Linked DNA regions of Homo sapiens. The protein of the gene in region 2 purifies or fractionates together with the protein of the main gene of each other region. This does not show direct contact. Each region holds a gene or a part of one and is shown on either strand. Other genes may lie near its edges.

Region 1 (4,893 bases), on a different chromosome or scaffold from region 2:
ATACTTGCCAAAAGGCTACCAATGGATACAATCTGGCTGGGCAAAAACTGAGCACAGTAAAGGGCAAAACATGCTCGTACATACAATTAACTACTGACTACAAAAATTAATGTAGCATGAAAAATGTGAAACAAAAACCTGAGGCAACAATAACAAGCAAGAGGGAATACGCTCAAATGGTTAGTAAATGTTTTATTTGTGAAAAGAGATACTGGAATGCTGAAACTTGTTAGAAATAGCATCGTGCTGAAATCTTCCATCCCCTTCGCCACTCACGGCAACACCCATGTCACTCCTCATTCTCTCCTTGCTCTGCCCGGGTGGCTGGCCTCCCCACGCTCCTGAGAAGGTACTGGTTGTGCTTTCAGCTTCCTGATTGGTAGATAGTTGGGTATGTACGAAAACTTTTTTTTTGAGACAGGGTCTCGCTGTCACCGAAGCTGACATTAAGTGGCACAATCATAACTCACTGCAGCCTCAAAATCCTAGGTTCAAGCGATCCTCTTGCCTCACCCTCCCACACAGCTGGAACTACAGGTGTGTGCCACCACACCCAGCATTTTTTTTTTTTTTTTTTTTTAATTTTTGTAGAGACTGGGTTGCCCAGGCTGGTCTCCAACTCCTGGCCTCAAGCGATCTTCCCACCCTGGCCTCCCAAAGTGCTAGGGTTACAGGCGTGAGCCATCGTGTCCGGCCTAAAAAACATTTCTTACTGTGATCTCTTCACAAAAATAAAACGTAAATCCCCTCAAAGTGGATAGTCGTTTCTCCACATAATTATGTCGTTTCCTTTAAAAAGTGGAATCAGGCCGGGCACGGTGGCTCATGCCTGTAATCCCAGCACTTTGGGAGGCCGAGGGGGGCGGATCATGAGGTCAGGAGATCGAGACCAGCCTGGCCAACATGATGAAACCCCGTCTCTACTAAAAATACAAAAATTAGCTGGACGTGGTGGCGCGCGCCTGTAGTCCCAGCTACTGGGGAGGCTGAGGCAGGAGAATTGCTTGAACCTGGGAGGCGGAGGTCGCAGTGGGCCGAGATCGCGCTACTGCACTCCAGCCTGGGAGACAAAGCAAGACTCCACCTCAAAAAAAAAAAAAAAAAAAAAAAAGTGAAATCATGGCAGACTCCAGCTAAACTGTCCGGGTTTCCAGAGTGTTTCTGGGTGGGACAGAGGGTGCTACTTTTCATTATCAGTTGGATCCTGGAATGAAGGTGCACGGGACTCCAGGGTTCCACAGGACCACGCGAGCACCTCCCCTCCCGCCCGGTGTCATTTCATCTTCTTCCAAATTCTCAAAACCCTTCCTCAGGACACTCACTGCGTTTCCTCGCCCCCCTCACTCCTCCGTCCAGAGGCAGCCTTACTTCTCCAAAGAGGACGCTCTGAGTCTGCGTTCCCCTGGCAGCAAGTCCTGAGGCAAGATTTGGGGACAAGCAGCTCCTGTGGGAAGTGGCTCCAGGAAGCCCCAGGAGAGACGCGGGGAGTGAGCCCAGCGGGAAGGACAGGCAGCGAGGACCGCTCCAAAGGTGGTGCCTCAGCAGCAATTCTTTTCTGCTCGGCTGTCCTCGAGCAGCCCCGCCCGCCCCGGGCCCTCCGGCTCCCCAGACGGCACTTAGCATCCCGCTCTCTTCCTTCCCCTCTGTGCCAGGCCGGTCGCCCCTCCAGACCCTCGCGGTCTCTACTTGCCCGTCGACCACCACCCCTTCAAGGCCGCGGGCGCGGAAAAACGGATGCTACCGTTGGCCGCGTGCGTGCGCAGGCGCACCACCCCCTGCCACCCCCGCGCAGGCGCACCACAACCCCCCCACCGCAAGCGCAACCCCCCGCCCCAGCGCAGGCGCACCACACCCCGCCCCCTCCCGGGCAGGCGCACCACACCCGACCCCCTGCCGCGCAGGGGCACCCACACCCCGCCCCCGCACGCAGGCACAAACCCCCACAACACGCACACCCCCGCGCGCAGGCGCACCACACCCCTCGCGCAGGCGCATCACAGACACACTCGCGCTCAGCGTGGCGCCTGCGGGATTCCGTACCGGCGTCTCCATGGCGACCGCGTTGGCTGGGTGGCCTCCATTGTCGGGCTGCTGCTCTCAGCGGCGGGGCTCGCCAGCGCTTCAGTGGGCGGGGACGCGGCAGGTGAGACGGGGCGGGTACGGCCAGCTCGCTGAGCCCTCGAGGCGGGCGGCGGCAGGAAGGTGGTGCCTCGGCCCGTCGTGCCCTGTCGCCTAGCTCCAGCCGCGATGCTGACCGCAAAGGCTGCCCTTCTGAGGCCTGGAATGTGAGGCCCAGAGCGTCGGACCCAACTCAGCCTCGCCCGGATGGGGAAATCGAGGCAGGGAGCGGGGGTGGGCGTGCGTGGGGATCCCTTGAAGGCAGCCTCGGAAACCCCACGGAGCCTGCGCTGCCTGGGCCCTGTGTGAGTCCAGGCTGTTGTTTCACTTCTGGTTTTAAGATACTTTCCCTGTTCTGAGGTTTGAAGCCTCCCCTCCTCTGTTTTAAGTTCCGTGATTCGGAGAAAACAAGTGAACTGACCGTGAAAAAGCCCGCGGGCTTCCATGGAATGCAGGCTGCCTGGGGTTGAACCCTGCTGGGTCCCGGTGTCGCCTCTACCCCCCAATTAACTGCGCCCCTGGAACAGTTCCCTAACTGATCTGCGCCTCATATGCCAATCATTGGGCTGTTGAGTGACTTGAATTAGGTGAACTGATGCATTCCAACGTTGATTCTTATTGCCGAATAAATTGTTTGGAAATTGCAAGTGGAAGTGTGCCTCGCTGAATGAGATTTTGGTGAACAATACTTCTGAGTAAAAGTGTTGCTGGACAACGAAAATTCGAGATTAATTTAACAGGTTTTTCCCCGGTGCTTAACTGGGTGTAAGCCAGACTTAGTTCTGGTCACTGGGTCAAAATGGTAAACAAAAGACAGGCTTCCTGGCCTCAAGAAACTAAAAACATAGTTCAAATGGCACAGAACCACACCAGAGGTAAGAAACAGTGCAAATTTCCACCCGCCCCTAGTCATTTCATGGAAGCGTTGCAGTTGATTTACAGGCTTTGAAATGTTCCGATCTGTTTACATCCCTAAAATGATCATTACTATTGTGCGCCTTTGCGTTTTCCAGGAGTTAAATCTTGGAACTCCATTGTACAAAGTGAGAGCAGAGAATTTTAATCTGAACCTCTTTGTATTCCTTTTTTTTTTTTTTACATGTTTAAAAGTCAAATTTTTGCTACTGCTTAGGAAAAATGATAGCTTTTAAAGCAAGTTACATTACAGTAGATCTGCCACACAGCTATTCTGTTTTGCCTCGGTATAATTAGTTGCTTCTACGTTTCCCTTTCCCGTGTCTCCAGGTGACTCCAGACCAAGGAGGATGAGCTGCTGTCCCTGGAAGAGAACGGATGGAGGGAAGCAGCTCCTACGAAGTTCCCTCTGTGGCTGCTGCTGATCTGGAGGAGGGTGCTGGTCAGACTAGGAGCTTGCCTGCCACCCCCTCCAAAGATGTTCACAAGGGTGTTGGAGGCATCATCTTTTCCTCCTCACCGATTTTAGACTTGAGTGAAAGTGGTCTGTGCCGTTTGGAGGAGGTCTTTAGAATCCCCAGCCTTCAAGTAAGTGGGGCTGCTCCTCAGGCTGTGTGCCCACAGGTCCCCTATAGACAGAAATGGGAATGTACCCCTGGGCTTTATTTGTAGGCTTCTTTCTCTTTGGAATTGATGAATTCTAAAATTAAATAGAGGAAAGGTTAACTCATAGTTTCATACGCCAATCACAACAAAATGGGAAATTCATGATGGGGACCAACCAATGGAAATAGTACATCTATTTAGATGAAGGTGTCTGTTCTCTTCCTTGCAGTTCATCTCTCAAAACCTGTGGTAGAAACTACTGCCAAACACGCTTGGTCTCTTAATTAAAACACAAAACCTTAAAGAAAATCAGGCAACATGAGCAGTTAAAAACTTTGTTCTCACCCATGATTTTGCTCATGTTACACACTGGTTTTACTTTGTGCCCGGCCCTTCTCCGGGTCAGTCCGCAGTAGATGCTGTCTTGTCCATGTGATTTCTAGAGAAAGCTTCTGTGAGGGCACAGGTTTGATGTTAGACAGTTGAGGGTTCCCCCTGCAGCACTTGTCCCTGCTGGGACTCACAGAATTTCCTTAAACCTCATTTGGTTTAATCTGGAATGTCGGAATGATCATGTTTTCACATCATTTATTGTGAAAATGAATAATGTGAAAGTTCAGTGTCTGGAACATAGTTATGATATTGATTGACTTTCTTTTTGTATTTTTAGTAGAGATGGGGTTTCACCATGTTGCCCAGGCTGATCTTGAATGCCTGAGATCAGGTGATCTGCCTGTCTCAGCTTCCCAAAGTGCTGGAATTACAGGTGTAAGCCACCGCACCTGGCCAGATTGACATTTTTGAGTGCTTCTACAAGAGCTACATATTTAGATTTTTAGTGGCTGCTTAAGTTATAAACTCTACATTTGCATTGTCTTTGCTGTCACGGCAGCGCTGGTCTTGCTCTTTCTTTCCTTCATGCTGACATCTAGGGTGAGGCACTGGTCACAGGGACCTGCCTTGTCCTGGCTCCTGTTACACAGGTGTCACTTTTAATGAACAGATATCCTCAGCCCTGAATAAGGGATCCAGCAGAGCCCTGAGGTTTCTGTTACCTTTATGCACAAAGGGAGAAGGAGGAAATTCCAGAGGTCTTCAGGCTTGATGAAGAAACTTGATAACTGTTTATACCTTTCAGAAGACAAATGTCAGTATAAATTTTATTACCATGGCATAGAGTCTTTAAATGTGGTAATCAGAGTGGTAGACTTTCTGCCGCTGTGGCTGCAGTCTCTAAAGTCATAAACAGCACTT
Region 2 (4,194 bases):
ACTGCAGCTTCAACCTCCTGGGTTCAAGTGATCCTCCTGCCTCAGCCTCCCAAGTAGCTAGGACTACAGGTGGTGCCACCACACCCAGCTAATTTTCTTTTCTTTTTTTTTTTTTTGAGACGGAGTCTCACTCTGTCGCCCAGGCTGGAGTGCAGTGGTGTGATCTCGGCTCACTGCAAACTCTGCCTCCTGGGATCAGGACATTCTCCTGCCTCAGCCTCCTGAGTAGCTGGGACTACAGGCGCCCGCCACCATGCCTGGCTAATTTTTTTGTATTTTTAGTAGAGACGGGGTTTCACCATGTTAGCTAGGATGGTCTCGATCTCCTGACCTTGTGATCCACCTGCCTCGACCTCCCAAAATGCCGGGATTACAGGCGTGAGCCACCGCGCCTGGCCACACCCAGCTAATTTTTAAATCATTTGTAGAGAGAAGGTATCACTATATTGTTCAGGCTGGTCTTGAACTCCTGGGCTCAAGCAATCCTCCTACCTCGGCCTCCCAAAGTGCTGGGATTACAGGTGTGAGCCACCGCGCCCAGCTGAACCTCAGTCTTTAGAACCTTGGAATCCTAGATTCATAACGTGCTTAGCATGGAATTCTAAAACTGTAGAACCTGAGAATTCTAGAATCAGAACCATAGCATTCAAGAATTCCGAATGATAGAATTCAGCTAAAATAACAACAGAACTTTAGATTACACATCTTAGATCTCCCAAGTTATAGACTCTCAGAGCATGAGAATTTTGGAACCATGGGATTTGAGGGTAATAGAAACATAGGCACATCAAATTTGAGAGTCTTAGACGTCTAGAATCATATAAGCTTGAAACCATCGTAACCTAGAATCCTGGAAATTCTAGACTCCCAGAACTTTGAACAATCAAATTCTAGAATCCAGCCAGGTGTGGTGGCTCATGCATGTAATCTCAGCACTTTGGGAGGCCAAGGTAGGTGGATCACTTGAGCCTAGGAGTTTAAGACCAGCCTGGGCAACATGGTGAAACCCTGTCTCTACAAAAAAAATTAAAAATTAGCCAGGCATGGCAGCATGCATCTGTGGTTCCAGCTACTTGGGACTCTGAGGAGGGAGGATTGCTTGAGCCCAGGAGGTTGAGGCTGCAGTGAGCCATGATTGTGCCACTGCATTCCAGCCTGGGTGACAGAGCAAGAACTTGTCTCAAAAAAAGAAAAAAAAAAATTCTAGAACCTCAGAAGCCTAGATCCACATAAACTTAGAAACATCCAATTCAAGAATTTACTGGAACAATCAAATTCTAGAATCTTAGAAGCCTAGAGCTAAAGAAGCATAGAAACATCAAATTCTAGAATCTTGTATGTATAGAATCCTAGAACCTTGGAATCTGCAGATTCTGGAGGTAGAGAAGCCTAGAATTGTAGAACCCTAGAACTGTCAAATTTTAGAGTTTAGATATATAACACCCTAAAATCTTGGACATTAAAGAGTCTTAGAAGTGTTGACTCATAGATGTCTAGAGTTCTAGAAACTTGGACATCAAACTCTGAAGCCTTAGAAATACGGAATCAGGTCAGGGGCAGTAGCTCACACCTGTAATCCCAGCACTTTGGGAGGCTTAGGTGGGTGGATTGCTTGAGCCCAGGAGTTCAAGACCAGCTTGTACAACATGGAAAGACCCCATCTCTACAAAAAATACGAAAAATTAGCCAGGCATGGTAGTGCGTGCCTGTAGTTTCAGCTACTCAGGAGGCTGAGGTGGGAAGATCGCTTGAGCCTGGGAGGCAGAGGTTGCAGTGAGCCGAGATGGTGCCATTGCACACTCTAGTCTGGGTGACAGCCAGACTGTTTCTTAAAAAAAAAAAAAAAAAACAAAAAACAGAATCATAGAACCTTCATAAAATAGGTTTTTAGTAAACTCTAGAATCTTCGATGTATAGTGTCCCTAGAACCGTGGAAACACTGAACTCTACAGCAATGGTTCTCGACCAGGGGCCGTTTTGCTCCTAGGGGATGTTTGGCAAGGGTTGGAGATGGTTTTGTTTGGTACGCTGGGATAGTGCTACTGGCATCCAGTAGGTAGAAGTCAGAGATGCAGCTAAACATCCTACAATACACAGAGCAAGTGCCCTAAAACAAGGAATTATCCTGGGCACTGTGTTAGTGTCACGGGTTGAGGAACCCAGCCCTAGGGTGTTCAGAGTCTGGAGTCACAGCACATTAGAACCAATAACACACACACACACACACACACACAAGTCGGGCGCGGTGGCTCACGCCTGTAATCCCAGCACTTTTAGGAGGCCAAGGCAGGTGGATCATCTGAGGTCAGGAGCGCGAAACCAGCCTGACCAACATGGCGAAACCCCGTCTCTACTAAAAACACAAAAAAATCAGCTGGGCGTGGTAGTGGGCGCCTGTAGTCCCACGCCCAGCTAATTTTTGTATTTTTAGTAGAGACGAGGTTTTACCATGTAGGGCAGGCTGGTTTCGAACTCCTGACCTCAAATGATCTGCTCTCCCCGGCCTCCCAAAATACCGAGATTACAGGCGGGAGCCACTGCACCCAGCAGTCGTCGGGATTTTGAGTCTAGCCCTCCTACTTAATCAAGACCCCCCCGATGGTTGGGAAAACTGTGGCTGAAAGTGGGAAAATGACCAGGGCAGCAGCAGCCAGTGTTCTTACCCAGACAGCAAGAGTAGACTCTTTTGAGCCTGAGGCTTAGGGTCAAGGTTCAAGCCTTCCAGGTAACCTCTCTTCCCCTTCTCACCCGTTCCCTTGTTCCCTGTCCTACCAGACTGCAAGTTTAACTGTCACAAACGCTGCGCCACCCGCGTCCCTAATGACTGCCTGGGGGAGGCCCTTATCAATGGAGGTGAGAGGCTGGGGGGATGCTGGGGAGAAAGGGGAAGGGGCAGGACTGGGTGGAGACCCCTCTGATGCCTCCGTCCCCACAGATGTGCCGATGGAGGAGGCCACCGATTTCAGCGAGGCTGACAAGAGCGCCCTCATGGATGAGTCAGAGGACTCCGGTGTCATCCCTGGCTCCCACTCAGAGAATGCGCTCCACGCCAGTGAGGAGGAGGAAGGCGAGGGAGGCAAGGCCCAGAGGTATACACAGAACCCTCCAAGAGACCCTGGGGGAAGACCCTCCTGCACAGTGAACCTCAATTTCTTTTTCTCTACAATGGGCTGACATCACCTCATATTTATAAATTTTCCCAGTTCCTGAGGCAAACCTTTTAAAGCACTACAATTTTTTTTAAATAATTTTTTGTTTGAGACAGGGTCTCGGTCTGTCGCCCAGGCTGGTGCAGTGGTGCAGTCTTGACTCACTGCAGCCTCGACCACCTGGGCTCAAGCGATCCTGCCACCTTAGCCTCTCGAGTAGCTGGGACCACAGGCTCGTCCACCACACCCAGCTAATTTTTGTATTTCTGTAGAGACAGGGTCTACCCTATGTTGCCCAGGCTGGTCTTGAACTCCTGACTCCTGAGCTCAAGTGATCCACCCGCCTCAGCCTCCCAAAGGGTCTTGCTTTGTTGCCCACTGGAGTGCAGTGGTGTGATTGTGGCTCACTGTAACCTCAAACTCCTGGGCTCAGGTGATCCTCCTGCCTCAGCCTCCCGAGTATCTGGGACTACAGGGATGCACTGCTATCCCTGGCTAATTTTAGACGGCGTTTCGCTCTTGTTGCCCAGGCTGGAGTGCAGTGATGCAATTTCAGTTCATTGCAACCTCTGTCTCCTGGGTTCAAGCGATTCTCCTGCCTCAGCCTCCCAAGTAGCTGGGACTACAGGCACCCGCCCAGGCCCAGCTACTTTTTTTGTATTTTTAGTAGAGACAGGGTTTTGCCATGTTGGTCAGGCTGGTCTTGAACTCCCAACCTCAGGTAATCCACCTGCCTCGGCCTCCCAAAGTGCTGGGATTACAGGCATGAGCCACCGCGCCTGACCTATATTCCTCTTCTTTTTTTTTTTTTTTTTTTTTTAAGATAGGGGGTCTTGCTATGTTGCCCAGGGTGGTCTTGAACTTCTGCGCTCAAGCAATCCTCCCACCTCAGCCTCCCAAAGTTCTGGGATTACAGGTGTGTGCCACTGTGCCCCCAGCCTACACATTTTTAAACTATACACGGAGTTCATACTTAGTCAGCTCCACTGGAATGTGAGCTCAGGTGCATGAGGGCAAGGATATTTTCTGCCCTCCCAGGTGCCTA
Region 3 (4,194 bases), 1.4 Mb from region 2:
AGGGGGTGTGGGGTGCAGGGAAGGGGAGGGCTGGGGAAAGATGCTGGAGGCAGAGACAGCAGGATTTGGGGGCTGAGATGGAAGGTTGGGGCTTAGAGAGGTCTGAAAGGACTTTGACTGGAGGGATTGGAAGGAGTGGGAGGAAAGAACATGGTGTGTGGGGGGCCAGCAGCCTGAAGGGGCCCAGCCGCCAGTGCTGGGTGGAAAGGCTGGTGATGCGGATGGCCCGCCTGCCAAGGGCCTGGAGTGCTCGGTGCTTATCATGAGGACACTGGGGAGCCATGGAAGGATTGTGAGCAGGCAAGGGGCAGCATCCAGGGGGAAGAGGAGCTGGACCCCAGCTGTAGAGAAGAGAGAAGAGGGCAGGAGAGATCTGGCAGACAGTGGATGTCAGGGTGAGGAGGCAGGAGGAATGCCTCCAGGATCTCCCTGGGTGACTGGATGGATGACAAAGCCGTCGGCAGCTTGGGACCCTGGTGAGGGGCAGGCACCTGCAGGGGGCATTAATCACCCCAGCGTGGGGCAGGCATGAGCAACCTCTATCTGTGGGCCCCCAGGGCCATCCAGGAAGTTTGGAAACGGGTCTGAGGCTCACCAGGTCTGGCTCAGAGCCCAGGGTTCGGGCTGGTCAGTGTAGGAGGGATGACCACCCACTGGTGGGTTCTCATCCGCCTGGGGAGAGGATGTGCTGGGAGCACTGGAGCTGGCTTAGGGCCATGGGCACCAACATTTAGGGAAGGCAGGGGTTTCAGGCTTTCATGAGAGGACAGAGGGACTGAGAAAGGTTGACTTGGATCAGGAAAGAGTTACGGGCTTATGGGAGCCAGAGGAGATGAGACTCAAGATTTTCTCACTCATTCACTCAAGATGTGTTTCGGGAGCACTGACGTCATACCAGACCCAGCACACACGGGGTCGGTTAAGAATACTCTGAGCTGCAGGTAACAGAAAACCCAACTACATTGGCTTGGACAAAGAAGGATCTGTTTTTCTCACAAAAGAAGTTGCAGATGCTGGCTTTCCTGCCCAACAATCCATGGCAGCTGGGGCCTCTTCCACTGTCTCATGCCTCCACCCTTGATGGGTCGTGTTCACACTCACACTGCTCTCCGTGCCGCCTTGTGGCCCCCGTGGCTGTCCAAGTCCCGGGTTTGTTGTGAGTTGTTGGCCACTTTGGAGAATCCCGTCCCCTTTGATGTGTGATTCGATAACATCCCATTGGTGAGGCTCACACTGTCGGCTCTCCCATTTGTGGCAGTTTCGCTTCAGGCGCGAGGCCCACCTTCATGTGCTCTGTGCCGCGGCTGAGCATCTGTGGACTGAAACGCGCACTTGTTCGTTCATTACGGATTGCTTTCCCTTTCATTCTTTTCTGTGTTAGGGTTAGGGCGTTATCTCGATAGGTGTAGGCAGGTTATGTTATCTCCACATTTTATTTCAGACCAGAAAAGAGGTGACACACAGTATCTGGTGACAAGGGTGTGTTGGTTCTGATAGGTTGAGAGCTGCTTGTCACAGCTGTCACCGTGACTTGAGGCTCCATCTCCCCAGCTCTTACACCCAGGCGCCCATGGGACCCAGCTCTGGACAGTAAGTGGGGCCAGAGCACATCCCACGTGTGTAAGCTGGTGGCTCCAAAACAAGCCGAAGGGTCTTTGGTCACTGCCAGAGATGTTCATGACCCGCCAGAGGAAAGGGTCCCTTGGCCTTCTCTGCTCTGTCCACACTCACTTCCCTAGTGACCTTGTCCCGCCTGTGGCTTTAAATCCCATCCGCGCCCTGATGACACCGGCCCAGATGTCTCCCCTGAGTGTGGTCATGCTCGTTCATCCACCGCTTTCCTGGCTCCACGTGCATGTTTGCTGACTTCCTACAGCCAGCGTGGCTGGGGGCACGTTCCCCAAGCCATTTCTACCAAGTGGGTGAGCGTTAGACACAGGGAGGTGCAGGGACTCGCCACAAGCACACACAGCTGGAGAAAATTCATCCAGGCCGCGAGAGAAGGGAGACACGCAGCCACAACTGTCACCCTCGACACCCCCACCCGCGCTCTCCCCTGAAGGTCGGCAGCTGGAGTCCGTCCGGGCTGAGGCAGCCGAGAAAGGCGACGTGGGGCTGGTGGCCGAGAACAGCCGCAGCACCCAGAGGCTCATGCTGCCACCACCTCCGCTCACTGCCTCCGGGGTCTTCAGCAAGTTCCGCGACATCGCCAGGCTCACTGGCAGTGCTGTGAGTGGGGCGGGCCGCTCATCCCGGACCCCAGACATCTTGGGGACCTGAGGCCACGCGTGTGTCAGGAAGGCTTCTGGGTAGACCATCAGCTGGGTCGCATCAGTCCTTCTCATGGGGTGCACAGCTTCCTCTCCTCCTTCCTGCACCCAATCCTAGGGGAGTCTCCTCTTCAGAGTCTAGCAGACCTAATGCCATGGCTGCCACATGACAGGACTCAGTAAATACTTCCTGGATAAAGGGAGAGGGAGGCAAGGAGGAGAGCTAGCTCGTTCTTACTGCCCTAAGAGTGGGCGGCCATGGGAGCTGGGACATGGGGATGGGGTGAGGGAAGGAGGGCAGGTATTCCAAAATGCAGGGCAGCAGCACGGCTGGTGGGGTGGAGGTGTGGTCCCTGCCTTCACCAGGCACTGACGGCTCTTCCCCTGACTCTCCAGTCCACAGCCAAGAAGATAGACATCATCAAAGGCCTCTTTGTGGCCTGCCGCCACTCAGAAGCCCGGTTCATCGCTAGGTAAGCGTGTGGGCCTGTGAGGCTACAGAGGGGGACTGCAGGCTCGGAGGTGAAAGGAGGGAGGGACTGGCAGCTGGAATCATCACAAATGCCCTGACCATCCTTGGATGAGAAAAGCATGAGCAGGAGGCCCAGCCCCTAAAGAGTGGGAAGGGACACCATTTCCTTTCACAGGCCAGCTTCTGTCCCTTGGTAGTGCTGTCTAGAGAAGGCCCCTGGGCCCCTGTGGGTGAAGCATGCTGTGATTGATTGGTGAGGTCTGCCTCGGCTTGGGCGCGGGCCCTGCAGCAGGAAGCCAGGGTTTGTTTGCCATGACAGTGAGAGCAAATCCATTGAGGGCTCACATCATGGAGCATTTCTTGGGAGCCCTGCCCTGTGCCCCGTGCCTTACCTCATCAGTTCCTACCAGCAACTCTGTGAGACTGGTCTTGTTACCCTCACCTCCAGTTTATAGAAGGGGAAATGGAGACATGGGGAGGCAAACTAAGCCACTTGTCTCCTGCCACTGGCTCAAAGCAAGGACCATGCTGGGGTCCTGACCATTACAGTCACCAGGGCGGGCGCCAGGCTCAGTTCTCTCCCTGACTCATCCTCCTCAAGCCTCGCCAACCCCTCAGGGCAGCTGAGATGGGAGGTGCTGGTGCACCTACTTGTGCCCCTCCCCAGTCTATGCTAGTGGGCAGGATCATTACTGCCTGGCTCAGTTTCCTCATCTGTCACATGGGGCTGTGTGATATCTGGGGTCCCTTCCAGGCTCTGAAGATTCTTCTGGTTTTTGAGGAGAGGGTCTACATACATCAAGGTCGAGGAGATCAGAGAAGGGAGGAGGCAAGATTGGGGAGGTGCAGACAAGCCCCCTTCCCTGGCCTGCTCTCTCCCCAGGTCCCTGAGCGGACGGCTGCGCCTTGGGCTGGCAGAGCAGTCGGTGCTGGCTGCCCTCTCCCAGGCAGTGAGCCTCACGCCCCCGGGCCAAGGTGAGCTCCTGTGGCCCGTCTCTGCATCCCTCGCTGGAGTTACCTCAGGCTTCCCCCCTCCTCTTCAGAGGCCCATGCCCGCCCCTTCCCCAGCGGGCCCCTGCCATACCAGGCTCCTCTCTCCTGGGTGGGGGGGAGGGGGCGTCTTGGGCCGCGGCATCTGCATTCCTTGCCATACAGCAAACCACCCACTGCACCCTGGTGTAGCCAAGGATGTGGGTGCCTTCCAAAGCCTCTGGTGGGTCTTTTCTTAGAATTCCCACCAGCCATGGTGGATGCTGGGAAGGGCAAGACAGCAGAGGCCAGAAAGACGTGGCTGGAGGAGCAAGGCATGATCCTGAAGCAGACGTTCTGGTGAGAGCTGGGCAGTGGGTGGAGTTGCCAGGGGCTGTGGGCAGAGTGCCAGGGTGGGGGTGGAGCCAGAGGAGCAGTGGGTGGGGCCAGTGAAGTGACGGACAGGCATCACGAGTGCCGGTC
Region 4 (4,194 bases), on a different chromosome or scaffold from region 2:
AGGGAAGCTTCCCTCTCTCAGTTCTAGGTCCAATGGCAGGCATCTGAAGTCCCTGAGAAACTCCTTGAAAACTCGGAATGTGAATAGCCTGAAGGAAGACGAAGAACTAGTGAAAGGACAAAAACTAATTAAGAAGGAATTCATAGAAACTGGAAAGGTGAACACCACACAGAAAAGTAGCATTTGAGGTGTTATAAGGTTTAGAACCCAAAATTTTTAACGTTCAGTGAAAATTGAACGCATACTTACAGGAGCAATATGTCCTCTGTCCTTTGCAAATCTTCAGACTCATTATTAACCTGTTAGCAGAGGCTGTGGGCTTTCTACCAAGTCATATTTCCATAAAGAATGCTATGTTTCCTGTGAATGTCCTCATCCTACACTTCATGAGTGTTTGATTCCATTCTGATGTGTGGAGGAACAGGAAAACTCAGACCTAGAGCACATAATTCAAATTAATGAAATTTAACCACAAATTTCAAGGTCGGCAGTAGAACCCCATCATCTGTTCCACTCTGATTTTTTGTTTGTGTGTTTATTTTAGATACAGGGTCTCACTATGTTGCCCAGGCTGGACTAAAACCTCAGGGCTCAAGAGATCCTCCCACACCAGCCTTCTGAGTAGCTGGGACTACAGGGGCATGCTATCATGTCTGGCTTGTCCCAATCTGTTTTTATATCTTCTCCTCTTAAATGCCTTTAGCTTTGATGATTATTTACCCTGCATTGTATTTCAGCATTGTTCTATTATCCTTCCTGGCACAGTGCAGAAATGGTGACCACAGACTACCAAATTTTGCTACCTGCTACCCATGCTCCCAGGGGACTCCACTTCTCCTTGTGGTTGGCATTCTAGGTGATTCCTTATCAAAAGCCATTAGGGAGTTCTACTAATATTGAGGTGGGGACTTTGCAGGTGAAGTTCTCCATCTACCTGGAGTACCTACAAGCAATAGGATTGTTTTCGATATTCTTCATCATCCTTGCGTTTGTGATGAATTCTGTGGCTTTTATTGGATCCAACCTCTGGCTCAGTGCTTGGACCAGTGACTCTAAAATCTTCAATAGCACCGACTATCCAGCATCTCAGAGGGACATGAGAGTTGGAGTCTACGGAGCTCTGGGATTAGCCCAAGGTATGTCTGATGGCTATGACATCTTACAGAATCTGTCTGGACCCTGTACTTTTCCTGGACTCAGGAATGCATTTGCCATTATGTCCTGGGCACAAGTCTTCAGGGATTCCTGTGCATGGTGCTGACAAAACTGCTTCCATCTCTAGGTATATTTGTGTTCATAGCACATTTCTGGAGTGCCTTTGGTTTCGTCCATGCATCAAATATCTTGCACAAGCAACTGCTGAACAATATCCTTCGAGCACCTATGAGATTTTTTGACACAACACCCACAGGCCGGATTGTGAACAGGTTTGCCGGCGTAAGTATCTCAAGAACTGTCAGGTGGTGTGTTTATATACTGAGGATCTTTCTGATAGGGAGGAATTATTATGTCCCCCTAGACAACACTGTTCAGTTCCAGTTCTTTTGTCACTCAACATGCAAGTGTTTCTTGAGTACCTGCTGTGAGCTCCCAAGAATCCTGGAGATTGAGGGATGAACATCTCTGACCCTTCAAGTAGCTCAGCATCTAGTGAAGAAGACAACCAAAGAAGTGAAGGATTATAATAGAATATAGTAAAACCAGTAACAGCAGTGTGTAGAAAGGTGGTCTGGGAGTACAAAGGAAAAAAAGGCACTAGCCCAGCCTGCGTGATAAAGGTGGGAAATGTCAGAAAAGGTGAAACTTAAGTCATAGAAGCAAGCCAGGGAGATGGCAAGGGTTGGGGGATGGCAGTAGAGCAGGGTGAGAAGGATTATTCTGCAGAGGAAGGAACATAAATAAAAGCACTGTCACAGCCTGGGACAGGAAATACAAGAGATAGTAGGATAACCCTTTGCTTGGCCTCTGCCTCCATTCCTGAAACTTCTATCTTGAATGCTTTAAGAATGAGTAAATTTGGTCTGGACTATGGAATAGAGCCATCAGTGATTTTAAAAAGTTCTCAAATATTGTTTCCATCTACCACAGATCCTGGACCCCTTGGCATTCACTCATTCATTCATTCAACAACCGTTATTGAGCACTTTCTATGAGCCAACTACTGTACTAGACACTGGGGCACTCAATGAATGTGAAGATCATAGATGTCTCTCTTCCATGGGCCAGACCCAACTCACTGATTTTTTAGTGTATCTGAGATGGGAATTCAGGAACAGAGGCAGAGATCAGGCAATTCTGAATGATAAGTAACTATCACCAGCACAGTTTTTAGCCCTGTGCTTATGGAGCAGCTCTGGACTCTTGTTTGTTGGTCTTGGGGCAGACATAGAAAGTATAGCTCACAGTCCACAGCCAGGTTCTGGGGACACAGTAACTGCTTCAAAAGTGGGCCATTAACTGGTCCCCCTGTGTCATCTTCCTCTGGGGCAGAAACAGTGGGCATGATGTCACTAGAGACAACTTCAATGGCCTTTCTGCTCTTTACTAGAACCTAAAAGAACACTCAATTTTGGGTGAGAAATTTCTCATAGTAATTTTGTAAAGATCACAGTTTTCCCCATGTTGTAATATATATAATCTTCTGGGAAAGAGAACACAGAGGTTTTCTGTGAGTTACTTAGGCAACAGTCATAGTTTGAAGACTGCTTTTGCATGAGAAAGGAAACTGTCATTAATTATATAGTATGTTTCGTTGGGGAGGTGGCTCAGACCTATTAAGGGGAGTTTGATCAAGGGGCCTCTGGGATCAATGGCTGAGTTAAGAGGAGATGGAGTGGAGGAAGGAAAGATGGAGACTCTGTGCCAGGTAAGGATCAAAAGTAATCTGCATAGAACTGATAACTGGTAGGGATTTCTTTTCTCTGCCAACTGTGGGTATAGTTATTTGCATTCTGATAGGACTTTGGGAAAGGTAGGTTAGACTCAGGAGTCATCCATGATTCAGAGCTTTCCTGGAAGACCATTATCCCTGATACAGTTTGAGAAATTCCAGAGATAACTTAAACTCACTTTGGTACTCACATATTACCAATCATAGAATCAATATAATCCCCACAAATTTAGGCAAGGGCAACCCAAAATATAAACCAAGCTTCTTGAGTGTTCTCCAAACCATCCATCCATTCATTCATTTTTCTTATTTGTTCATTTATTTCACATGACACGAAGGCAACATGGCAGTAAGACACATCTGTTCCCGCTGGGTTCCTTGGTTAGAACACTGTCCAGGCAGGCTCACATTCAACCCCAGCTCCCTTCCCCTTGGTCCTCTATGCTTAGCAGAGGAAGCAACTTCCTGAGTATTTTTAGTAGAGATGGGATTTCACCATGTTGGTCAGGCTGGTCTTGAACTCCCGATCTCAGGTGATCCACCCGCCTCGGCCTTGCAAAGTGCTGGGATTACAGGTGTGACCACCACGCCAGGCCTAAATGAAGAAATTATGGAAATGAAATTGGTTATTGGGGCAAGCAATGCAGCCTATTGCAAATGAACACAATGAAATGATTACATGAAGGAGTACTGGGAACACACAGAATCCAACAGATTCCTTGCTAGAACTAGGAAGATGTAAACTATCTTAGGAAGACCTCAGTGATGGTGTATCTCTCCTAATCGTTTTCCTAGGATATTTCCACAGTGGATGACACCCTGCCTCAGTCCTTGCGCAGCTGGATTACATGCTTCCTGGGGATAATCAGCACCCTTGTCATGATCTGCATGGCCACTCCTGTCTTCACCATCATCGTCATTCCTCTTGGCATTATTTATGTATCTGTTCAGGTAGGTTTGGAAATGGCTAAGTCATCCTTCCTTCCTCTCTATCTATAAAAGCCCAGCCTCTTTCCTGAGAATCTTCTCTCTGATTCATTGCTAGTCACTCACTCCTCCCCTCAGCAGCTTTGCCATTTAGTCATATGTTGACATACCCAGGAGCCCACAGGCCACTGTCTGAAGCTGAAGTGAGAGCATCAATGGGTGCACCATTTATGGCAAATGTCACCCTAACTGCTGCCCACCCTTCACTCCCTGGAAGCTTAGGTCGGACAGATTTACGTTTGGATCCAAGACTACTTTGAGATTGGCTCTGGACACAGTCTTGCAGCTCCATAAGAACCCCCATGACGATTAGGTCG
Region 5 (4,194 bases), on a different chromosome or scaffold from region 2:
GGCCACCATCCAGCCCCGGAAGAAAACCTCCAGGTTCTTGCTGCCCTGCGACTCCAGTATCTGCAGGGGGATTATACTCTGCACGCTGCCATCCCACCTCTCGAAGAGGTTTATTCCCTGCAGAGACTCAAGGCCCGCATCAGCCAGTCAACCAAAACCTTCACCCCTTGTGAACGGCTGGAGAAGAGGCGGACGAGCTTCCTAGAGGGGACCCTGAGGCGGAGCTTCCGGACAGGATCCGTGGTCCGGCAGAAGGTCGAGGAGGAGCAGATGCTGGACATGTGGATTAAGGAAGAAGTCTCCTCTGCTCGAGCCAGTATCATTGACAAGTGGAGGAAATTTCAGGGAATGAACCAGGAACAGGCCATGGCCAAGTACATGGCCTTGATCAAGGAGTGGCCTGGCTATGGCTCGACGCTGTTTGATGTGGAGGTGAGAACTGGCTGCCGTGTGTTGGGGTGGGCTGGGTGCTGGCATCTGAGAACATGGATCACGGCCAAGTTCATGTGGAGAGAAGACAAGATGGAGCATTTTGCTCTCTCAACCTCTTTTATTCGAGCCCCCAGAATTGTACCATTAACGCCTCCCTTCTCCTCACAGTTTCTCTTCTCCTGTGTAGTAAACACATCTGTAATATTAGGAATGAATGCAAAATTAAGATGTCATCTATTCTTCTACCCTTCCTTAGGGAAGCTATAGATCTAATTTTTTAAACACTGATAAAAATCTACATTTAAAAAAATGTTATAGCTGTATATACAAATTAGAAACTTTGGATATACTTGCATTTTACTTTGTTTTTTCTTTACAGCCATCTGTTTGAAAGGAAGAATGTCTATCTCGTAATGGAATTTAGCCATTGGCATCAACCCAGTACTGATTTTTGTTTTGTTTTAAGTAGACCGCTTATTGAAAAGAAATCTTACTAATTGTCTAGATGAGAGTTTGGCAAACTGGTCTGTGGGTCAGATCTTGCCTGCCTCCTTTTTTCTAAACAAAGTTTTATTGGAACACAGCCAAGCTCATTCCTTTAGATATATTCCCTGGCTGTTTTTGTACAGAGTTGAGTAGTTGTGACAGAGACCATGTGATCCACAAAGTCTAAAAATCTTTACTATGCAGCCCTTAACAGATAAGTGTGCCAGCTCATCGTCTAGATTAGCTTCCATTTTTTATGATCACAGTAATTCAGCGTATATCTGATGACTTTATATTGAGGCTGTATAAAATTCTAAATATTATAAATTCTAGAATCCGTGGGTGGCTTTTCATTAGGTGATGTTTTTGATTGGTTTGGTTGGTTCAATTATGCCTGTTTTTAAGTATAAAAAAATCAGGTGCTTTGTACAAAGCCATAATTCCATTTCTCCCTGACAAGGAATAGATAATAGCAGTTAAACTCTTGGCTTCCTGCAAAACGTGAGCTGTGAATTAGCATAGAAAGCTACTGGCTTGGCCGGGCGCGGTGGCTCATGCCTGTAATCCCAGCGCTTTGGGAGGCCAAGGCGGGCGGATCATGAGGTCAGGAGATCGAGACCATCCTGGCTAACACGGTGAAACCCCATCTCTGCAAAAAATTAGCTGGGCGTGGTGGCATGCACCTGTAATCCCAGCTACTCGAGAGGCTGAGACAGGAGAATCGCTTGAACTCAGGAGGTGGAGGTTGCAGTGAGCCAGGATCACGCCACTGCACTCCAGCCTGGGCGACAGAGTGAGACTCCGTCAAAAAAAAAAAGAAAAAAGAAAGCTACTGGCTTTTGCATGGAGGATGCAGAGAATGTCTGGTTATTAGGGATATAAACTAGAGACTCTTTTCAGCGTCTCCAATTTATAGCCCTCCTGCTTGTCCAGGTTTGGATCAGCCCTGTGTTGTTAGCCCCTTCATATGGGGTCTTATTTTCTTCCACCAATCTGTACAGGAAAGTCTACAGTTAAACTGGTAAAGTCCCTGTTCCCACTCTGCATATGGAAGGCCATTGCTGCTCCTTGTGAAGAGGAGCCAGAACTGCTCAGCATGCGTGATTTGGAGAATTTTCCTCTGTGATCCTAGATTTTGTATTTGAAGACTAACCATCCGCAAAGAGGATTGGAGGCAGAACTGGAGATATTAATACAAGAGTAGACTTGGCTTGGGTTGCAGGGAAGCTTCCTTAAGTCCCCCGGCCAAGCATGTACGTTTCCAGGCCACTTCCACGTAGCTAATCCAAACAGCTAGTAGAATAATGCTGAGAAGTGGAGAGTCAAAGCAAGATGTTAGACTCTGCCAGTTAGTGAGGTTTTCCCAAAAGCGTGAGATTAACTAGTTAGAAATCAAGATAGCCAGAGAGGTGCCATTTTTCATATTTCAGGCCCCTCCATGCATGCATGCACATCGAATATATTTAATCTTCTGCACAGAGGACTTCACTCAAAGCCTGTCTTATGGTTTAGATGCTTTCTGTTGCCAACCACTTCATGACTTAACTCTTCTGTTGACTCTTGCCCACCAGTGCAAGGAAGGTGGCTTCCCTCAGGAACTCTGGTTGGGTGTCAGCGCGGACGCCGTCTCCGTCTACAAGCGTGGAGAGGGAAGACCACTGGAAGTCTTCCAGTATGAACACATCCTCTCTTTTGGGGCACCCCTGGCGAATACGTATAAGATCGTGGTCGATGAGAGGGAGCTGCTCTTTGAAACCAGTGAGGTAAGAGGCAAAGCAAGTTCATCTTTTTATTCATGGTCTTGACAAAACAGAAAAACAGGACCCCATTTCCTCATGCCTTTGACCAGGTCATTTTCTTTGAATATTTTTCTTCAAAACACGAAAATACAGTGTGGTGGTCCCTTTCCAGCTGCCGGTTCCCTGCAGGCCAAAATCTGAGATCACCATATTTTTTTTGTATACTTTTGCAACAGAGGAATCTGGTTCCATTTTGCCAAGGAGTCTTACCCTTGGAGGAAAGGCAGAGAAAGGGAAGTGACATAGATGTCCCTGAAAAAGTATATTATTTGCAACAAAACCTTATGAAAATTAGTTAGCAATTATAGCGGTGTCACAGCTGTGAGACTCGGCTCTGGTGGCCTCTTGAGACCAGGAGGGAGCCGGGAGCATGACCATCCTGGGTGCAGCTCATTCTGGATTGTGAAACCACACACACTAAAAGGCCTCTAAATATATGTGCTACCAGCCTCCAAGTTTAAAAAATATAATACAAGAAGCTTATTGAGGCTTCCACAAAGGGAACAGCTAGCAAGTCAACGTGGTGAGTGGAGAGGAATCACCTGCTGCCTGGTTTGGAATGGAGAGGCATTGAGGAGGGCGTTCCAGCTGCTTGGAGGATGTGGCATTGTAGGTTCCCTAGGCTGATGGGGAGTCGTGCAGTGAGAGGGAAGAGGGTGGAGAGCCCTTGACTCAAGGGTCCCAGGTGCCAGGCTGCAGGATTTGGTGAGATCCAGTAGACAACAAGGAACCACTGTGGGATCTTTGATTGTGCATGGCATAACAGTGAATTTACAGACAGTGATCTCTGGGGTGGGACTGGAAGGGAAGAGAGCAAACAGGGATATGGAAGCCGGTTATGATGCCTGCACAGGGATCCAGGCCAGCTGTGAGAAGGGGTGGCAATGACGGGGACATCATGGGAGGGAGCTAATGGAGATCCCAGCTGGAGGAGGTGGCTGGTGTGGAGCAGAAGCTGGCCTGGCGTCTGGGGAGCTGGCCGCTCTCCCAGCCCCTGGGGCCTCAGTTATCTTGTTTCTTCAGCTGCTTCCTAAGGAGTTGACTAGAATTAGATGATCCAGTCTTTAAAGGCTGTAATTGTGGACTCTGTCATTTCACATTTATTTTAAGCGGGGATAGTAATCCCAGCACTGTTGACACCGAGTAACTTCAGCGTCCTCGGTTAGTTCTGGATTTTAATGTGCAAAGTCTGACAGTTTCCATCAAGCCAAGTTGGCACGTTTGTGCCACCAGGTGGTGCACATTGTATTTGGAAAAGCTGAGATTCCACCTTTCCCTGATGAGGAAGGTGAAAGTGGTTAAACTTCTGGCTTCCTGCAAAATGGGATCCGTCGATTAGCATGGAAGGCTACGGGAGGGTGCCCAGGGAATGTCTGGATTATTAGGCAGGGCCCTTTGCCTGGGGGAGACTTGTGACGCTGTGTCGGTTCTGCTTCCCCCTGGGCAGGTGGTGGATGTGGCCAAGCTCATGAAAGCC
Region 6 (4,194 bases), on a different chromosome or scaffold from region 2:
AGAAACATAAAGAATCAAATAGGAAATCTTTACGCATGAATTCAGATAAGTTGGTTTTGTGGAAAGATGTAAAATCTCAGGGTAAAACTTTATCAGCTGGCTTGAAATTCCATGAACGCATGGGTACTAAGGGCTCCTTAAGAGTTAAATCTCCTTCCAAATTAGCAGTAAACCCGAATAAAACTGACATGCCTTCTAATAAAGGAATCTTTGAAGATACTATTGCAAAGAACCATGAGGAATTCTTTTCTAACATGGATTGTACCCAAGAAGAAAAGCATTTGGTTTTTAACAAGACAGCCTTTTGGGAACAGAAGTGCTCAGTGAGTTCTGAAATGAAGTTTGATTGTATCTCTCTTCAGTCAGCATCTGATCAGCCCCAAGAGACTGCACAAGACTTAAGTCTTTGGAAGGAGGAGCAAATTGACCAAGAAGATAACTATGAGTCTAGAGGTTCAGAAATGAGTTTTGATTGCAGTTCCTCTTTTCATTCACTGACTGACCAATCTAAAGTGAGTGCCAAAGAAGTAAACCTTTCCAAGGAAGTACGTACTGATGTACAGTATAAGAATAATAAATCTTATGTTTCTAAAATAAGTTCTGATTGTGATGACATTCTTCACTTGGTTACCAACCAATCCCAAATGATTGTTAAAGAAATAAGTCTTCAGAATGCAAGGCATATTAGCCTGGTTGACCAAAGCTATGAATCTAGTAGTTCTGAAACGAATTTTGATTGTGATGCTTCACCTCAGTCCACTAGTGACTACCCCCAACAATCTGTAACAGAAGTAAACCTTCCTAAGGAAGTGCACATTGGTTTGGTTGATAAGAACTATGGTTCCAGTAGCTCTGAAGTAAGTGCTGATTCTGTTTTCCCACTGCAGTCAGTGGTTGACAGACCCCCAGTGGCTGTCACAGAAACAAAACTTCGGAAGAAGGCTCATACCAGCTTGGTTGATAACTATGGATCGAGTTGTTCTGAAACAAGTTTTGATTGTGATGTTTCTCTTGAGTCAGTAGTTGATCATCCCCAACTGACTGTCAAAGGAAGAAACCTGAAAGGTAGACAAGTCCACCTAAAACATAAGAAGCGTAAACCCAGTAGTGCTAAAGCACATCTTGATTGTGATGTCTCACTTGGGACAGTTGCAGATGAATCCCAGAGGGCTGTTGAAAAGATAAATCTTCTGAAGGAGAAGAATGCTGACCTTATGGATATGAACTGTGAATCCCATGGTCCTGAAATGGGTTTTCAGGCTGATGCTCAATTAGCTGACCAGTCTCAAGTAGCCGAAATAGAGCGTCAGAAAGTGGATGTTGACCTTGAGAATAAGAGTGTTCAGTCTAGCCGTTCTTCTCTGAGTTCTGATTCTCCGGCTTCTCTTTATCATTCAGCTCATGATGAGCCTCAAGAAGCTTTGGATGAAGTAAATCTTAAAGAGTTAAATATTGACATGGAAGTTAGGAGCTATGATTGCTCCAGCTCTGAGTTGACTTTTGATTCTGACCCGCCTCTTCTGTCAGTTACTGAGCAGTCTCATCTGGATGCTGAAGGAAAAGAACGGCACATTGACCTGGAAGATGAGAGCTGTGAGTCAGATAGTTCTGAAATAACTTTTGATTCTGATATTCCTCTTTATTCAGTAATTGACCAACCTGAAGTAGCTGTTTATGAGGAAGAAACTGTTGATCTGGAAAGTAAAAGTAATGAATCTTGTGTCTCTGAAATAACTTTTGATTCTGATATTCCTCTTCATTCAGGAAATGATCACCCTGAAGTAGCTGTTAAAGAAGTAATTCAGAAAGAAGAGTACATTCACTTAGAAAGGAAGAATGATGAACCCAGTGGTTCTGAAATAAGTTCGGATTCCCATGCCCCTCTTCATTCAGTGACTAATTCTCCCGAAGTAGCTGTTAAAAAGCTAAATCCTCAAAAAGAAGAGCAGGTACACTTAGAAAATAAGGAAAATGAACCTATTGATTCTGAAGTAAGTTTGGATTATAATATCATTTTTCATTCAGTGACTGGACGTTCTGAAGATCCCATTAAAGAAATAAGCCTTCACACAAAAGAGCACATGTACTTAGAAAATAAGAGTGTTTTTGAAACAAGTTTGGATTCTGATGTCCCTCTTCAGGCAGCGACTCACAAACCTGAAGTAATTGTCAAAGAAACATGGCTTCAAAGAGAAAAGCACGCTGAATTCCAAGGTAGAAGTACTGAATTCAGTGGTTCAAAAACAAGTTTAGATTCTGGTGTCCCTCATTATTCAGTAACTGAACCTCAAGTAGCTGTTAACAAAATAAACAGAAAGAAGCAATATGTTCTAGAAAACAAGAATGATAAATGTAGTGGTTCTGAAATAATTTTGGATTCTAATGTTCCACCTCAGTCAATGACTGACCAACCTCAACTAGCTTTTTTGAAGGAAAAACATGTTAATCTGAAGGACAAAAACAGTAAATCAGGTGATTCTAAAATAACTTTTGATTCTGAACAACTTCAGGAAGCGGTTAAAAAAATAGACCAATGGAAGGAAGAGGTTATTGGCCTGAAAAATAAGATTAATGAACCTAGTACTTATAAATTAATACATCATCCTGATGTTTCTGTCCAATCTGTGGCTGATCAACCCAAAGTAGCTATTAAACATGTGAACCTTGGGAATGAAAACCATATGTACTTGGAAGTTAAGAACAGCCAATATAGTTGTTCAGAAATGAATTTGGATTCTGGTTTCTTGGGTCAGTCAATAGTCAATCGACCTCAAATAACTATTTTGGAGCAGGAGCACATTGAACTAGAAGGTAAGCACAATCAATGTTGTGGTTCTGAAGTAAGTTTTGATTCTGATGACCCTCTTCAGTCAGTGGCTGACCGGCTGAGAGAAACCGTTAAAGAAATAAGCCTTTGGAAGGATGAAGAAGTTGACACGGAAGATAGGAGAAATGAAGCTAAGGGTTTTGAAATTATGTATGATTCTGATGTTCTTCAGCCAGTGGCTGGCCAACCTGAAGAAGTAGTTAAGGAGGTCAGTCTTTGGAAAGAGCATGTTGACTTGGAAAATAAGATTGTCAAACCTACAGATTCCAGAATAAATTTTGATTCTCATGAACCCCTTCAGTCCGTAACTAATAAAATTCCAGGGGCGAATAAAGAAATAAATCTTTTGAGGGAGGAACATGTTTGTCTGGATGATAAGGGCTATGTGCCCAGTGATTCTGAAATAATTTATGTTTCAAATATCCCTCTTCAGTCAGTGATAAAACAACCACACATTTTGGAAGAGGAGCATGCCAGTCTGGAAGATAAGAGCAGTAATTCTTATAGTCCTGAAGAAAGTTCTGATTCCAATGACTCTTTTCAGGCAGCAGCAGATGAGCTTCAAAAACCTGTCAAAGAAATAAATCTTTGGAAGGAAGACCATATTTACCTGGAAGATAAGAGCTATAAATTAGGTGATTTTGATGTAAGTTATGCTTCTCATATTCCTGTTCAGTTTGTGACTGATCAATCTTCTGTACCTGTCAAAGAAATAAACTTGCAAAAGAAGGATCATAATGATCTAGAAAATAAGAACTGTGAAGTCTGTGGTTCTGAAATAAAATGTCATTCTTGTGTTCATCTTCAGTCAGAAGTTGACCAACCTCAAGTGTCTTACAAAGAGGCAGACCTTCAGAAGGAAGAGCATGTTGTCATGGAAGAAAAGACCGATCAACCTAGTGATTCAGAAATGATGTATGATTCTGATGTTCCTTTTCAAATAGTAGTTAACCAATTTCCAGGATCAGTCAAAGAAACCCACCTTCCAAAGGTGGTACTTGTGGATCTGGTGCCCGGTGATAGTGATTATGAAGTAATTTCAGATGATATTCCCCTTCAGTTAGTGACTGACCCACCTCAGTTGACTGTCAAAGATATCAGCTGTATAAATACAGAATGTATTGATATAGAAGATAAGAGCTGTGACTTTTTTGGTTCTGAAGTCAGATGTAATTGTAAAGCCTCTACTCCCTCAATGACAAACCAATGCAAAGAGACTTTCAAAATAATAAACCGGAAGAAGGACTATATTATTCTGGGAGAGCCAAGTTGTCAATCTTGTGGTTCTGAAATGAATTTTAATGTTGATGCCTCTGATCAGTCCATGACTTACGAGTCACAAGGACCTGATGAGAAAATGGTGAAAT
Region 7 (4,194 bases), on a different chromosome or scaffold from region 2:
CATCCTGACCAACCAGCATTGAATGTGCTGAGTCTATAGCAATGTTTGAATCTGGATCATTTGGTTCAAACGTGGTGCTGAATAACTCTCTTGAAGAGCTATTTAAGCCATCCTCCTAGTACCAAGACCACTCTAAAACTAAGCCCCAAAATGTGAACATCATCTAGAGGCGACATTTTAAATTTTTTAAATTATGTATCCATTAAGTAAAATGAATCTCCTTTACCTCTAGTAAAATGTTCAGAGTGTTTAATTCCATTTGATTCATACAACAATTCTATACTAAGGAAGATAGAGTACTATAATAGACCTGAAATCAAATTTTATAAAAGAAGAAGCCTGGGCAACATAGTAAGACTCCCTCTCTCCAAAAAAAAGAAAAGTAGCCAGACGTGGTGGCTCATGCCTGTAGTCTCAGCTACACGGGAGGCTGAGGTGGGAGGATGCTTGAGACTGTCATTGTGGCACTGCACTCCAGCCTGAGCGACAGAGTGAGACCCTGTCACAAGAACAAGGAGGAGGAGGATGAAAAGGAGGAGAAGAAGGGAGTGGGGGAGGAAGAGTGGGGAGGAGAGAAGAAGAGGGAAGAACAGGAGGACGGGGGTGGGGAAGAAAGAAGAAGGAAGAAGATGACGAAGAAGAAGTAGGAGGAGGAGGAGGAAGAAGAGGACGAGGAGGGAAGGAGGGAGAAAGGAAGGAAGGAGGGAAAGAAAAACATGAGTTCCAGTCCCGTCCCTGCTCCCTCCAAGCTACAGGTCTCATGTGACTTCAGGCCAGCCACCTAACCCCTACAGGTACCTCACAGTAGAATGTCTGTTGGGAATTCTGTGATCTCTAAATTTGCTTCCAGCTCTAACAAACTATGATCCTACTATCATTCTCATTTTACAGAAGACAACTAATGTTCAGGGAGGAAAAGGAAATTGTTCAAGACCCTGTGGTCAACAAATGGTGGAGCACAGACCAGGGCCTGGTTCTCTTAGCCCTAATCCATTCCTTCCACAGCAGCTTGCTGGTCTAAATCACAGGCACTAGGGCAGCTGGAAAAGAAGTCACCAACGAAAGTAATTAGAAATGCAGTTTCAAAGTTCTTTTTCCTGCACTAAGACATATACTTAGAATGGAGCCAAATCAAAGTAGATGTGCTCTCTAGCAGAAACTTAACTAAAAATTGCTCAGGATGAGATGGCAATGGTTCCTATTTGATTACAAATGTCCCCCTTAAAGTGTTACGAGTGTTCTAGTCAAGTCTAACAACAAATCAAGAAGCCCAAATATGGTGAAATCATAGCTTTTCTTCCTCCTTCCATGTGCAACACTGTATATACCACTAATTGGCAGATGGTGTGAAACTGGTCTGATCTTTAAGAGGACTTGGACCATCCTAGAATCACCATTGCCATCTTTGTGCTAACCGTCAAGAAGCTCAGCCAACCTGGAGTCAAGTGCAGGCCTCATCTTAGTAGTGACTCTGCCTGTCTTCTCTCGCTTGGTAACAGAAACAAAAAGACAACTACCCAAATGGAGTAACTGGAGTCGCCAACATTTCTTAGTGCCTTTTGTGTGTCCAGCACGGTTCTGCTTATGGTAAGTAATTTTCCCAACAGCCTGTGAGTTCGTTATTATTATTAGCTCTAAACTGAGCCACAGACCTCGTGCATACCCTTAAAGAGGAGAGAAGCCAAAACTGTATATTGAGTTGAGAGTCCATTCGCTTAGCCACCAAAAATGTACATAGGATTCTACTGTCCATTTAGGACATAGAAGGCATATATATACCTATATCGGCAAATGCATGTACATAGATGCGTGTGTTGTGTATAGATAAAAATAGGTATGTATAATTATTATAATATGCCTTAATTCGCTTTTAAAAAGGGAGAACATGTTAGAGATAACTATGTAAACATGTGCCGTTCGCAAAGTGGCTAAGTCACTCTAGAATGCCAAGTGTGGGTTGACAGTGTAAGAAGGGAAGGTCGGCCCCAGCGGGCAATGATTCACCCAGTCTCGCTAACAACCCTCTTCCCTCCCAGACTTGCACAGTTAGGGAATAGAGGAAGGAATTCCACATGAATTTCGGCTTACAACATGTGTTTAAAAACTTAAAGTCTTGCCACCAAAATATGAAATTCATGATTTTAATATTCCACCAGCATACCTCTTTAGTATAATGTGAAAAAATGTCCGCTTTTATTTTCATTTGTCTTGCTATCCTTTCTAGTTTTTGACTGTTTCTTCACAACATGGTTCACATTTTGTTCTCATGGTGTTTGTTGTTTTGTTACCCCTTAATCATGTGTTTCTGAGACGGTTGTGCCAGGCATGGCTACATGGGCAACTCTGGCGTCTCAGGTGGCTGCTCTTGGCATGACTGTCCTGAGGACGGCTGCGTGGGGGACTCCGGCATCTCAGGTGGCTGCTCTCGGTGTGGCTGTCCTGAGGACAGCTGTGTGGGGGACTCCGGCGTCTCAGGTGGCCGCTCTGGGTGTGGCTGTCCCAGGCATGGCTGCGTGGGGGACTCTGGCATCTCAGGTGGCTGCTCTCAGTGTGGCTGTCCCAGGCATGGCTGCTCAGAGGACTCTTGTTCCTCAGGTGTTTATTCTTCTTGTCTTAGTGATGATTTTTCTTGTGATTGTCCCATCGGTGGTTCTCTGTGGGCTTCTATTTCTACTGGGGTTTCTAGTAGTACAGGTGTATTTTCTTCCTCTAGAATGTCATATGATTCTTTTTCTTGTTTTCAGTAAATAAAATAAAACAAAATCACCAATAAATCTAGTAGCCACCTAAGTCAACTGAAATAAATCATAAAAAGACAAACATTGCTGCTATATCATTGACTTAGTAGTGACAGTGATAATACTAACAAAAATACTTTTCACATAGGGTATTACAAGTGCAATGTGTTTTTGCATGCATTATCTCAAACAAGCATAAAATATGATGAGGTACCATCAGAGAAGCTAGAATCAAAGGTGTGTTACCAAATGCTAATTACACAGACACATTCCATTAGTCATTTAAAAATTGAAAAGTCACAGGGAAGATTCTTGCTCTTTCTGAGTTAGTGAAACAGAAAAGGCATTTTTAGTAAAATGAAAAAGAAAGAAATCAGAGTGCAGGAGAATCCAGAGGCCATGCCCTTCACAGTAGACCCCAACACATTAGAACCAACTTTCGGAGCTCAGGAAGAATACCCCATAGCAATCAACCTTTCACCGGCCAAACTACATTTCCTGATGCTAACATTACCTTTCCTATGGGGATGAATGCCATTTGGCAGAGGAAATTAAAAAGATGCTCCTGAAAACTGAAAACAAAACCATTTGAAATAACACTTGAAAAGAGGTCTTCAGCGAGAAGCCTTGCAGAGCCTGAGAGGGGCCAGGTCGCTCAGCTGACGTGGAGAACTCGGCACATTCACACACTGCCTTCCCCAAAACCTGCTCATCCCCTTGTTTTCAGAAGTAACGCGTAGACCCAAACCAGAAACCTCAACTCCAATTTCATTCTCGCCACCCATATCCACTTTGTGGCCCAGCGCGGTCCATTTTGTCCACTCCCAGGAATCTGTCACTTCCTGTCTGGGTCCCTGGGTCCCACCCCTGCCTGGGTCCAGGACTCCACACCTGAAAGAGAGAATACGATGCACACACATAATACTCTCATCCCTTTCCCTTCTCCCCCTGCTATCACAGCCACTTCTTAGAAACATAAATTTGATCACATCATCTCCCTGCTTTAGCATTACCTACAGGATAAAGACCAAAATCCTTACATTGACAGACGAGGGCATGGCGACAATGGCCAGGTGACCACCAAAGATGTGGACCTGCCCGAGACTGTGTTACCAGACAGAGAACAGCTAAACGGGGCCAGGCAACTAGTTCAGACCAAAGGGATGTGAAACGTGATGTGTCCCTTCTGGGCTGAGATGGCTGGGTATCTAATGTGGCTTCCTGTGTCTTTCCTTCTCCTCCTGTTGCAAACTCAGAGACCATGTGTTGAGGACAGCAGCATGACAAAATCAAGGATCCCTGAGTCACCGTGTGGAGGAGAGCCACCCAGGAAAGCCTCCAATCCACAGTAGGCTGCTGTGATCAAGAAATAAGGATTTATTGTGTAAAGCCACTGAGATTTGGAATTGATTTTTTTTTTTTTTTTTTACTGCAAATTAGCCTTGCTTCTTCTCAC

Evidence for each region.
Region 1: the proteins of PRKD2 (region 2) and LRRC27 purify together in Homo sapiens (affinity purification with mass spectrometry, with the first as the bait; one large-scale study listed by BioGRID). This does not show direct contact.
Region 3: the proteins of PRKD2 (region 2) and LIG1 purify together in Homo sapiens (affinity purification with mass spectrometry, with the first as the bait; one large-scale study listed by BioGRID). This does not show direct contact.
Region 4: the proteins of PRKD2 (region 2) and ABCC2 purify together in Homo sapiens (affinity purification with mass spectrometry, with the first as the bait; one large-scale study listed by BioGRID). This does not show direct contact.
Region 5: the proteins of PRKD2 (region 2) and MYO10 purify together in Homo sapiens (affinity purification with mass spectrometry, with the first as the bait; one large-scale study listed by BioGRID). This does not show direct contact.
Region 6: the proteins of PRKD2 (region 2) and ZDBF2 purify together in Homo sapiens (affinity purification with mass spectrometry, with the first as the bait; one large-scale study listed by BioGRID). This does not show direct contact.
Region 7: the proteins of PRKD2 (region 2) and DCDC2C purify together in Homo sapiens (affinity purification with mass spectrometry, with the first as the bait; one large-scale study listed by BioGRID). This does not show direct contact.

What each region holds. Positions count from the first base shown.
Region 1 is NC_000010.11:132,330,114-132,335,006, forward strand, and holds the start of LRRC27 (leucine-rich repeat-containing protein 27), read left to right. Parts: upstream 1-2,079; 5' UTR 2,080-2,143; exon of another isoform or gene 2,144-2,993; intron 2,994-3,363; 5' UTR 3,364-3,411; coding exon 3,412-3,621; intron 3,622-4,893. Other genes in the region: STK32C (serine/threonine-protein kinase 32C), read right to left, coding at 1,323-1,623.
Region 2 is NC_000019.10:46,699,694-46,703,887, reverse strand, and holds part of PRKD2 (serine/threonine-protein kinase D2), read left to right. Parts: intron 1-2,775; coding exon 2,776-2,853; intron 2,854-2,935; coding exon 2,936-3,089; intron 3,090-4,194.
Region 3 is NC_000019.10:48,135,557-48,139,750, reverse strand, and holds part of LIG1 (DNA ligase 1), read left to right. Parts: intron 1-2,062; coding exon 2,063-2,229; intron 2,230-2,666; coding exon 2,667-2,743; intron 2,744-3,625; coding exon 3,626-3,717; intron 3,718-3,971; coding exon 3,972-4,071; intron 4,072-4,194.
Region 4 is NC_000010.11:99,830,695-99,834,888, forward strand, and holds part of ABCC2 (ATP-binding cassette sub-family C member 2), read left to right. Parts: intron 1-21; coding exon 22-157; intron 158-916; coding exon 917-1,136; intron 1,137-1,282; coding exon 1,283-1,437; intron 1,438-3,685; coding exon 3,686-3,841; intron 3,842-4,194. UniProt on the Homo sapiens protein: ATP-dependent transporter of the ATP-binding cassette (ABC) family that binds and hydrolyzes ATP to enable active transport of various substrates including many drugs, toxicants and endogenous compound across cell membranes.
Region 5 is NC_000005.10:16,666,764-16,670,957, reverse strand, and holds part of MYO10 (unconventional myosin-X), read left to right. Parts: coding exon 1-432; intron 433-2,489; coding exon 2,490-2,681; intron 2,682-4,164; coding exon 4,165-4,194. UniProt on the Homo sapiens protein: Myosins are actin-based motor molecules with ATPase activity. Unconventional myosins serve in intracellular movements. MYO10 binds to actin filaments and actin bundles and functions as a plus end-directed motor.
Region 6 is NC_000002.12:206,305,283-206,309,476, forward strand, and holds part of ZDBF2 (DBF4-type zinc finger-containing protein 2), read left to right. Parts: coding exon 1-4,194.
Region 7 is NC_000002.12:3,842,610-3,846,803, reverse strand, and holds part of DCDC2C (doublecortin domain-containing protein 2C), read right to left. Parts: intron 2,796-4,194; coding exon of another isoform or gene 2,787-2,795; exon of another isoform or gene 2,734-2,786; coding exon of another isoform or gene 2,710-2,733; exon of another isoform or gene 2,128-2,709; intron 1-2,127.